2 linked regions of the Homo sapiens genome follow. The protein of the gene in region 1 interacts with the protein of each later gene in a pairwise test. Each region holds a gene or a part of one and is shown on either strand. Other genes may lie near its edges. The genes, in order: HOMER2 and PALLD.

Evidence for each region.
Region 2: the proteins of HOMER2 (region 1) and PALLD interact in binary tests that used the Homo sapiens proteins (3 or more experiments, as listed by UniProt).

Annotation. Positions count from the first base shown.
Region 1 is NC_000015.10:82,848,314-82,851,851, reverse strand, and holds the end of HOMER2 (homer protein homolog 2), read left to right. Parts: intron 1-620; coding exon 621-701; intron 702-1,948; coding exon 1,949-2,137; 3' UTR 2,138-2,869; downstream 2,870-3,538. UniProt on the Homo sapiens protein: Postsynaptic density scaffolding protein. Binds and cross-links cytoplasmic regions of GRM1, GRM5, ITPR1, DNM3, RYR1, RYR2, SHANK1 and SHANK3.
Region 2 is NC_000004.12:168,891,872-168,899,171, forward strand, and holds part of PALLD (palladin), read left to right. Parts: intron 1-2,614; exon of another isoform or gene 2,615-2,707; coding exon 2,708-2,806; coding exon of another isoform or gene 2,807-2,894; intron 2,895-3,721; exon of another isoform or gene 3,722-3,881; intron 3,882-4,677; coding exon 4,678-4,728; intron 4,729-6,621; coding exon 6,622-6,843; intron 6,844-7,300. UniProt on the Homo sapiens protein: Cytoskeletal protein required for organization of normal actin cytoskeleton. Roles in establishing cell morphology, motility, cell adhesion and cell-extracellular matrix interactions in a variety of cell types.

The sequences.
Region 1 (3,538 bases):
GTTTTGCTGCCAAATTAATGCCGCTAGAGACCCATGATGTAACCACTTATTTTCTTTTTTAAAAAAATTTAAAATGTATTTATTTTATTTAAGATGGAGTCTCATTATGTTGCCCAGGCTGGTCTTGAACTGGGCTGAAGCATTCCGCCCACCTCAGCCTCCTGTGTAGCTGGGACTATAGACACACGCCATGAGAGCACCACACACACGTGCCCACCACACCGCAGCCCAGCTCCCGGCGCCAGCCACCTGCACTCACTGCCACCATGCCTGGCCTACAGTCATTTATTTTCTAGGGGGCAGACAGTTAAGTGCACACATGTTGGAGGCCGTGCTCATGTTACCAAACTCCCTAGGCCTCACTTTCTCCACTTATAAAACAGAAATCGGAAAAACATCTGCCTTGTGGTGGTGTGTACAGACTTCACGTGACAAGGCGTGTGACACACTTCACCCTTGAAATTCCCTGAGATGAAGTATTCGCATGGTCACTATCACTGTCTATGCAAACAGGACAGGGTCCCAAAGCTGCTTCCACGAGCGTGCACACATTGGTGATTTTCAAGAATATATTTTATCTGACTTGCTTTCATGTTCTATCTCAAATTTTTTTCATGTAGGAGCTGAAAGATCTCCGAAAACAAAGTGAAATCATACCTCAGCTCATGTCAGAGTGCGAATATGTCTCTGAGAAGCTAGAGGTACGTGGGTTGGGGGCACAGCCATCCTGGCTCAGACAAGAAGGCACAAATGTCATGGTACTCATTTTCCTGCTTCCTATCACTTTCACACTGAGAATGCTGAAGGAGAGATTTTCTATTCACAAAAAGCTGGCAGTGACTGCACGCCAGATGGCACCGCATCCACCCCTGCCCCCGGGGCAGACTCAGCAACGTTTGTCTTTTGGTTTTGCAAGTTCTATGAAGGCCCCTGTGCATCACCACAGTGTAGACGACTGTTTCCTTGCAGATCCCTGGTGGGGGTGAGGAGCGGGGGGGCGGCCTGAGAGCCCAGGGTCAGGGTGTGGGGCCACTTCAGCCACTCCCCTGCCAGTGGCCTTGGGCACTGACCTTGGGCAGGCCTTCCTCCCTATCCTCAGATTTCTGATCACTAAAATGAGGATTTTCAGGGCTTCCTCCACCTCGGAGCGCCTCTTCCCTGCAGGTCCTCTGATATGCACACGGCGCTTCATGTAGTTACATGACCCTGGAATTGGTAACTGCTTCCTGTGCACATGTTCAGAAAGGTCTCTGTTTATTCCCTCAACATAAAGCTCTTATTTGATATGAAGAGTTAAAGGCTTATGGCTCATTTAAGGACTCACAGCTGTCCTGTCTTTGGGAACCTGCTTGTGATTTACCTAGATGTGCCTCTGTAGGCTTGTGGGGCCCAGCGCCACAGAACATCTCCATGGTAACAGCATCAGAGGGTGCACAGACTGGCTGTCCCTGAGTCATTGGCATGGCCAGTCCTTCCTCTCTGAGGGCCAGAGGCTGGCCTGGGGCTGAGGAGGCCACGCCTCTCTGTGGGACCAGGGGAACGAGCCACTCTCCCATCTGTTCTGTCTCTCAGGATGGAACTGAAATGTGGTCTCTGCTAGCCACTCAGACAGGGATTTCAGACTTTCCCTGCTGGGCCCTGTGTGAGGTCTCCCTCAGGCAGGACTCTGCGTTCTGCCTGCTTTGTTGGGTCTTGGGTTTTCAGGCTGGGTGTTGGTCCCTCTGTGGGAGAGCAGGCAGGAAAGGAGGAGGTCACTGAAGTGCCTGCTGCTTCCCTTCTGATGTCTTGGTCACAGGCTTGTGTGCTGGGGTAGCATGTCTCTAGGCAGCTTAAGCCCTGGCCCAGGCCCTCAGATTGGATGGAGAATGGTTGGTTCAGCTGTAGCAGGTTTTGAAGGATGACTCTCGTCACTCAGTTTTCTAGACCCTTCTCCCTTTTGCTTGGCCAGGCGGCAGAGAGAGACAATCAAAACCTGGAAGACAAAGTGCGTTCCTTAAAGACAGACATTGAGGAGAGCAAATACCGACAGCGCCACCTGAAGGTGGAGTTGAAGAGCTTCCTGGAGGTGCTGGACGGGAAGATTGACGACCTGCATGACTTCCGCCGAGGGCTCTCCAAGCTGGGCACCGATAACTAGGGCTGGCCGAGGCCCAGGCCCCGCCCGTGAGTCCCAAGCGTGTGTGCGAGACCAGATAGCTCTAGGACGTTCTTCTGTGTGCATTGCTTCTGTAAATGCAGGCGCAGTTTGTCGTGTTTCCAAACCAGTTGTGCCGTCCACTCACTCCTTTTCAGAATAGAAATCTCCTCTCGCTTCTCTGGCCTTGTGAGGTTGTGGACAACTGGAAGATTCTGACTCAGGAATCCAGAACTAGGTCTACCTTCAACATTTATGCAGTCAGGGCAGGGATGTTTATATCTTTCATAAGGGCTGTTGCAACCATATGAACTGAAAAAACACGCATTTTGTAATCCAAATATTGATATTCTTTACACCAAGCCATCAGGCTCCTTTTATCAAATAGCATTCAGAGTATTTGAATGTCCACCAGACACCAGCCCCGGGGGGCACAGAGAGAACAACATTCCTCTCTGTCAACATCGAGAGGCTTTAAAACAACTGTTTAGTGGAAACTTTCTGAGAGATGGAAAACAAGCTTCTGGTGGGTGCATTTTCTGGCCCGGAGTTGCCTGCATCCACGCTACTGCCCCCTGCCCCCCGCCCCCCCAGTTTGTACGGTTGCAACAGTGTTCCTTTTCTTGGTTTTAATTTCTGAGCAGATGATTGTGCTGTGGGAACAGCACACAGTGAGGGTGCCTAGCACAATGTCTGGCACAAAGTAGGTGCTTAATAAATATTTGTTCAATTAAATGTGTACACAGAATTTAGTGTTTTAATCAAACCCCACAGCAGAGCTGGGACCCTGTCGAATGATGCACCATCTTTGCTGTGCTGGGTAGTTAACAGACATGAATACCACTGTCTGGTCAAACCCAAGCTGGGGCTCGGGTGGCCCTGGGGCAGGGAGGGAGAAGGGGAAGCAGCAGGAGCTGGTCTCAGGCCCCTGGAGCCCATCCGTGATGCTCTGCCCCTGGGGCTCTCCAGACCCTCGAATCACCTTCTCCCCTAGGAATGGTGACCCAGGGATTCCAGGTATAGGGGCTGCCCAGGGCTTGGTACCTAGGGTAGGATTGTCTTATGGGTCTGGACAGCTGGGAAGAAATCACAGGCATTTCGGGGGGAGAGAGCAGCTCAGCTGACAAGCCTTGGCCCTCATGACAGAGGTGTTCCACCCAGCTCTGCGTCCTGCCTTTTTCAGTTTCTCCTAGGGAAGGGACTGCAGCCATAAACCTCTCCTCTCTCACAGAGCTGCTCAGTGGGGCCAGCGGGCCTGTGGGTGCTGTTGGCATCCTGCCCTGGGAGATTGCCCGTGTGTGGCAATAATGGCTTGAATCCCTGGCCCCACACATCTCTAAATGCCTTGAGCAGGGGGGAGGCTTTGGTGCCCCCTCACCCCTTTGAGAACCACCTAAGAGGACT
Region 2 (7,300 bases), on another chromosome or scaffold:
ATTGGGGAAGTTCTGTTCTTTTCTCCCAGACTACTACTAGATATTAATTCAGCATCTGAAAGAGTAAAGGCTGTTCCAAAATCTTGTTCTGGTTTGTTAGAGCAAGATAACTAAACTGTAGGAAAAAATAATTATTTTACAGCTGCAGAACTGTAGAGTACCTAAATAGATTTGGTAAAATATATAGATAAGATGTTTTCTCCACTGGATTTAAGTCTTTCCTCATCAGTTTTTGTTTGTTTTTTCATCTCTTTTGTTGATGCTATCCTTTTAAAATACTCTTTTCTTTTTAAAATACTATTTCCAGAATATTTTAAGGGGATGGGAAAAGCAAATCTAGAAAATAAGACTTACCAGGTAAAGGAGAGGAACCTTCTGTAGCTTTATTAAGGAATTGTCACTGGAAAAATTTGCCTGGCTCTTAAGTACAAGACAAGGATCTTTTTGTATAAAATCTCCCTTTCAGACACCTTTTTCAGAGTAGAAAGCTCTCTATAATTATGTTTTCTGAGAATTTTAATTATCAAACATTGATAAGTAAAACTGTGAGAACAGACCACACTTGAAAGCTGGAGAGCAGAGGAGGGGTGCTGAATGCTGATTTTAGTTTATTAGGGTATCTTAATCTGATTAAGAAAGATTAAAATTTCAATGAAGTTTTGTGTTAGTTACTCATTTCACTGAGTATAGAAGATTTTCACAAGAGGAAAATATTTTCTCCCTGAAATAAGTGATTGCATGTGTAAATGTACATACTCTGGAAGTTTTCCCTGGCTCTGTCAACTAAATCTTTTAAAAGATTAAAATAAATACATATGGGAACTTTTTCAAGCCAGGTAAGGCATCACTCCAGCTTTTTTTTTTTTCTTTTTGGCTGTCTATGTCAATGTTCCTTATGAACTAAGATTCTCTTGGTTAAGGTAAGACTTCCTTAAGCTATTGGTCAACCCACATTATATATATTGTATGTATATTTATATTCATCTGTTTAGCAGTGAATAACATTCACAGTAAGTTCCACAGGTATCCACACTTGAGAGCTTAAAATGACAAGTAAGGTTTCCCTTTTTAGAAAATGGGATTCTCAACCAACTTTTTCCTAATATTATATATCATTCTCTTTCTTATCTTTGGTGTCTGTAGACACGGGCTTTTATAGCCAGATGGCATAGTGACTTAGAAAAAAAACTGTGAAGTATATTTGGCTTCTAGTGGTAGCAGGTGCATTCTGGTGAAGGAATAGATATGAAATTGATATTTCTGCTTATAAGGAACAGAGTGAAAATCACTCCAGGCCTGCCTTTGATGTGTTACAATTCTCCGTGAAAAGATTAGGGAAGCTTTTTAAGAGATCAGGTATTTAAGACTCTCTTTGAAAATTGAATTCACTGATTTTTTAATAGGTGTGAGAAAATTAATTTAATAACATAGTGGACTCAGATGCTTCATGCCGCCCTCAGACTCCTACCTCTGCCTCTTCTTGTCCTCTGACCTTTCTTTATTAAGTGAAATAATTTGAACTGCAGGACTATTTGTCATTTGGCACTTGACTTGTTTCACTTCCCGGTTTCAGCTGGGATTGAGATCAGCAATTACTGGAAATTGTAAATTTACCCAACATATTTTCCTGATTAGAGAGCTTCCAATCAAATTTGCATTTATATTTAGAAGTTTGGAAGTTTATCTGAAATAATTTCTGTACATTTTTTAGATTCTGCCTTACCAATTATTCTCTATTTCTAATCAAACACTTGCTTATAAAATGCTCCCGATGAGGCAGGTGGTATCTGAAAGTTCCTTCCAAACCTGTAAGTCTAAGGCACTTTAGAATGAGTATTCAAGAGCAGGTATCACCCCAACAGTCACACAAAAATGCCGGCATTTCTTATGTATAAGAATGGCATAGGTAAAACGGTTTGGGCCAATTCCAAAGTGCTAGCTGCGAGATGCAAGAACACTACCACTTTCTTTGCCTGATGGGCAAGCAGTCTGCTTCTGGGTCAAGTCAATTGAGGCTGTTAGCTTTGGCAAGTGTCTTGTGTAATCCTGTTGCTAATTCAGCCATGTGCATCATTCTCTGTGGATTATAATAGTTGCCGCCAATCCCCTACATTACACAGCAGCCTGGGAAATGCTCTTAGAGGTAAGAACCCCATCACTGCCAGCTCATCCACATCTTCCTTTAGCTAAACATTTACTGAGCACATACTGTTAAATGACTGATAGAATTATTTCCATTAGCGATACCTGTTCTTTTTTTAGTCAGTTTATTCTCCTTTTGAGTATCTTTGTTTTTTCTTTCAGTCAGTATTAGAGCTGACTTGGGTGTTCTGAAGCTGATGGATGGCTATAAAAATAACATTTCTTTTAAATTGTATTTTGCTGTTTAAATATCTTTTTTTCCATGTTTTTCATTAAGGACATGACAAATCTTTTCTGTGTGGTTTCTTCCTTGTCGCTTATTGCTCACTTTAAATTTGTGCTGTACCAATTGGTGGCTCTCTGGATTAGGCCATTAGTACTAGAAAGGGAGGTAAAAAGGTAGAACAACTGAAGCAAGAAAAAGAAATATGCAGGTATCTGAAGCTGGAGAGAGAACACTTACAGAAAATCATGAAAGTGTGTTGTTTTTTACTCTTTTTCATAGGGCAGTACATATTTGTGATTTTTTTCTAATTTTGTATTTTTTGTGACTTACGTTGTTTAGAGGTTAACATACGAAGAAAGAATGGCTCGTCGACTGCTAGGTGCTGACAGTGCAACTGTCTTTAATATTCAGGAGCCAGAAGAGGAAACAGCTAATCAGGTACCATGTTGCTCTGGACTTCTTAGGGTAACATTTATTCTGTCCCCCTTTTCCATCTTCCTTATGGATACTGTTCTTGGGATGAGTTCTGTGGAAAGTAGAGGGCAAGTCACAGAAAAGCAGTATTAATATCATCAGTCAACCTCACAGCTAATTTTTATTGAGCACATACTATGTTAAGTGACTGACAGAATTCTTTCCATCAGTGATACCTGTTCTTTTTATTCTTCTTCTTGATTATTCTCCTTTCCAGTACATTTCCATTTTCCTATCCTAAGTTTTATGCAAAATAATTTTGTGTGGAGAAACACATTTTCGCCGACATTGTCTGAAATAACTAGTGAATATTTCCCATTAGAGTTGGACCTTGAACAACACGGGAGTTAGGGGGACCAACCCCAAGCACAGTTAAAAACCCACATATGGCCGGGCACAGTGGCTCATGCCTGTAATTGTAGCACTTTGGGAGGCTGAGGTGGGTGGATCACGAGGTCAGGAGATCGAGACCATCGTGGCCAACATGGTGAAACCCCGTCTCTACTAAAAATACAAAAATTAGCCAGGTGTGGTGACGCACACCTGTAGTCCCAGCTACTCGGGAAGCTGAGGCAGGAGAATTGCTTGAACCCGGGAGGTGGAGGTTGCAGTGAGCTGAGGTTGTACCACTGCACTCCAGCCTGGCAGCAGAGTGAGACTTCGTCTCCAAAACAAAACAAAACTAAAAACACATATACGACTTTTGACTCTTCAAAAACTTAACTAACAGCCTACTGTTGACCAGAAGCCTTACTGATAACAAAGAGTTGATTAACACGTATTCTGTATGTTATATGTATTATAGACTGTAGTCTTAAAGTAAGCTAGAGAAAAGAAAATGTTACAAAGAACATCTTAAGGAATAGAAGATACATTTACAATTCATTAAGTGGAAGTGGGTCATCATAAAGGTCTTCATCCTCATTGTCTTAAATTAGAGTGGTCTGAAGAGAAGAAGACAAGGGGTTGGTCTTGCTTATCTCAGGGGTTGCAGAAGCGGAAGAAAATCCATATATAAGTGGACCCATGCAGTTCAAACCTGTGTTGTTCAAAGATCAACTGTTTAGTCTTAATATCTAGTCAAAATAAAATAGAAAATATTATCTCTTTATCTTCTTTCACATATATACAGATGTTCTTCAACTTAGTATGGGGTTATGTCCTGATAAACTCATTATAAGTTGAAAATATTGTAAGTTGAAAGTGCATTTAAGGCGGGGCGCAGTGGCTTACGCCTGTGATCCCAGCACTTTGGGAGGCCAAGACCGGGTGGATTACCTGAGGTCAGGAGTTCAAGACCAGCCTGACCAACATGGTGAAACCCCGTCTCTACTGAAAATACAAAAATTAGCCGGGTGTGGTGGCGTGCGCCTGTAGTCCCAGCTACGCGGGAGGCTGAGACATGAGAATCGCTTGAACCCAGGAGACAGAGGTTACAGTGAGCCAAGATCGTGCCACTGCACTCCAGCCAGGTGACAGAGCGAGACTCCATCTCAAAAAAAAAAAAAAAAGTGCATTTAATACACCTAACCTACTGAACATCTTAGGTTAGCCTAGTCTATCTTAAATGTGCTCACAACACTTACATTAGCTTACAGTTGGGCAAAATCATCTAACACAAAGCCTATTTAAAATAAAGTATTGAATATCTCATGTGATTTATGGAGTCCTGTACCAAAAGTGAGAAGCAGAATGGTTGTGTGAGTACTCACAGCACCGTTACTACCAAACGCATATTGCTAGCACAAAAGTTTCACTTAAGGAAAATTAGAAATCTTGCTGCATTCTTATTATTTCTATTATTAGTCTTCACATCTTTTTTTCTACCATTACAGGACATTGGTTCTCCTCATGCTTCTGTAGGGAGTCCTCTGGATGGTCAAAAGGTTAAGCTTTTCACCTTTCTTCTCCTTCCAGTCTTTCTCTGTGTCTGTTTTCTTCTGTTCTTCCTGTTTTACGTGTGTTTCTATCTTTTCTGCCATATATTAATTATAAATGCTATGACCAGTGTCTGTTTCATTTAATATCAGATACACAAAATTACTGCAACATGAGTTTTCTTGTCATGTATTTACCAGCTTGAATTTATTTATTTATTTTTACTTTATGTATTTATTTATTTATTTATTTATTTTGAGATGGAGTTTCGCTCTTGTTGCCCAGGCTGGAGTGCAATGGTGTGATCTTGGCTCACTGCAACCTCTGTCTCCTGGGTTCAAGCGATTCTCCTGCCTCAGCCTCCCAAGTAGCTGGGATTACAAGTGCATGCCAACATGCCTGGCTAATTTTGTATTTTTAGCAGAGATGGGGTTTCACCATGTTGGTCAGGCTGGTCTCGAACTTCTGACCTCAGGTGATCCACCCGCCTTGGCTTCCCAAAGCGCTGGGAATACGGCATGAGCCACAGTGCCTGGCCTCTGACTTGAATTTAATTCTGTCATTAGTGGATACTCTGAACATTAAATCAAGAAAAATTTTTCATTTGTTATATATACCTTTCTATGGGGAACAAAAGTGCTAATTCTTCAAGGGATTAATTTGATAGTAATTAGATGAAGCAAAACAACTTGTGGTATAACTCTTGCAGTTTTATTCATACTGTTGTATTTCTTCCCTCAAACCAACAAACTTGTTTTTTAAACACTGAGTAACTTCTTTAAGAGAAAACATAGTTAAAGTTATCTTTCATTTAATATTAAATAGGGAATATTTACATAGACTCCCTTGTCTTCATTGCACTTTTTTGTTTTGGAGACAGGGTCTCACTCTTTTGCCCAGGCTTGAGTGCAGTGGCACAATCACGGCCCACTGCAGCCTCGACTTCCCAGGCTCAAGTGATCCTCCCACCTCAGCCTCCCAAGTAGCTGGGACAACAGGCATGTACCACCATGCCCAGCTACTGTTCTTTTTAAATTTTTTGTAGAGATGGGGTCTCACTTTGTTGCCCAAGCTGGTCTCAAACTCCTGGCCAGAAGCAATCCTCCCACCTCGGCCTTCCAAAGTGTTGGGAATTACAGGCATGAGCCACTGTACCTGGCCTTTAATGCACTTTGTAGGCAAGGAAATTGTAGGATCCACCGTAATCACCACAGGAATGTTGATGGGTTGTTTTTTTTTTTTAAAGCAAAATTTTGGCTAGACTGTCAGTCCTATTTTTTCTTCTAAAGATGGTGGGTTCCTAACAGCTGCAGAGCTGAGGAGGCGGCCCTTGCAAGGCAGGGATTGTTAGAGGTGGGGGAAAAAAAACAAACATTTTTTTTTTTCTATTATTCTTTTACTATTTTTTCTATTACCATTTTTTCTAGTACCATTTTTTCTATTATTCTTTTACTATAATTGTATATAATATGGCAGCTGCTTGCCACATGTACTATGTGGAGAGATGTACCACCCTGCATCAGCTTTTACCCTACAGAAGGAAATCAGCGTTCCATTATATTTTATTGTTATCAACAGTTTAGGAATACATAGCTTTGCTTTTGCCTTTTTCTTTCCTTCCCCTTGTTTCCCCTCGCCTCAGAGAAAAGAAGGAAAAAAAAATTCATCTTTCCTACCCCCCTCTTTTTGGATGATAGGACTTGAAGACAATCTGAAATACCACATAAACTCACTTCCAGATGTTTTTTGTTTCATATGCAATTGAATTGGGCTCAGACTGTGTTTTTAAGCTGTATGGTAAAAATATCACTGTCTTCTAGGGCCTTATTGGGGGGCAGGGAGAGACGTGACACTTTGTCAGAAGGGATTGAGTCTGCTAACTTAAACTTTCCTTGATTCAGGAATACAAAGTCTCCAGCTGTGAACAGAGACTCATCAGTGAAATAGAGTACAGGCTAGAAAGGTCTCCTGTGGATGAATCAGGTGATGAAGTTCAGTATGGAGATGTGCCTGTGGAAAATGGAATGGCACCATTCTTTGAGATGAAGCTGAAACATTACAAGATCTTTGAGGGAATGCCAGTAACTTTCACATGTAGAGTGGCTGGAAATCCAAAGCCAAAGGTGAGCTGGGAGATGGAGGCTTTTTAAGAGTCATTCTCTGAGGAAAGGTTTAGCTTCCAAAACATAGCATGCCAGTAGGAGAAAGAGATACAAATGATCTTTCTCAATACCCACGATATAAAGGGTTTTAAATATTCTTAAGTTCTGGGCCATCTTCAGGAGGCATTAGAAACCAAAAAAGGTGGTGGGGGGAGTGGAGTTTGGGTTTGAAGAATAGAGAATAACTAACAGGGAGCTCTTCACACACCTATATCATTTATTCCTCGTTGTTATTCCCAAATCACAAATAACTAAACTGAGTTCTGTGAAGTGAGTTTCCAAGGTCAGAGAGCTGGTGAGTGGCCAGGCCTGCATATGAACCCAGTGCTCTGTACCATACAGACAAGTAATGCTCACCACTGGTTGTAAAAACTTCCAATCTTTAATCAAAAAACCAAGGCTGCTTATATTAATATTT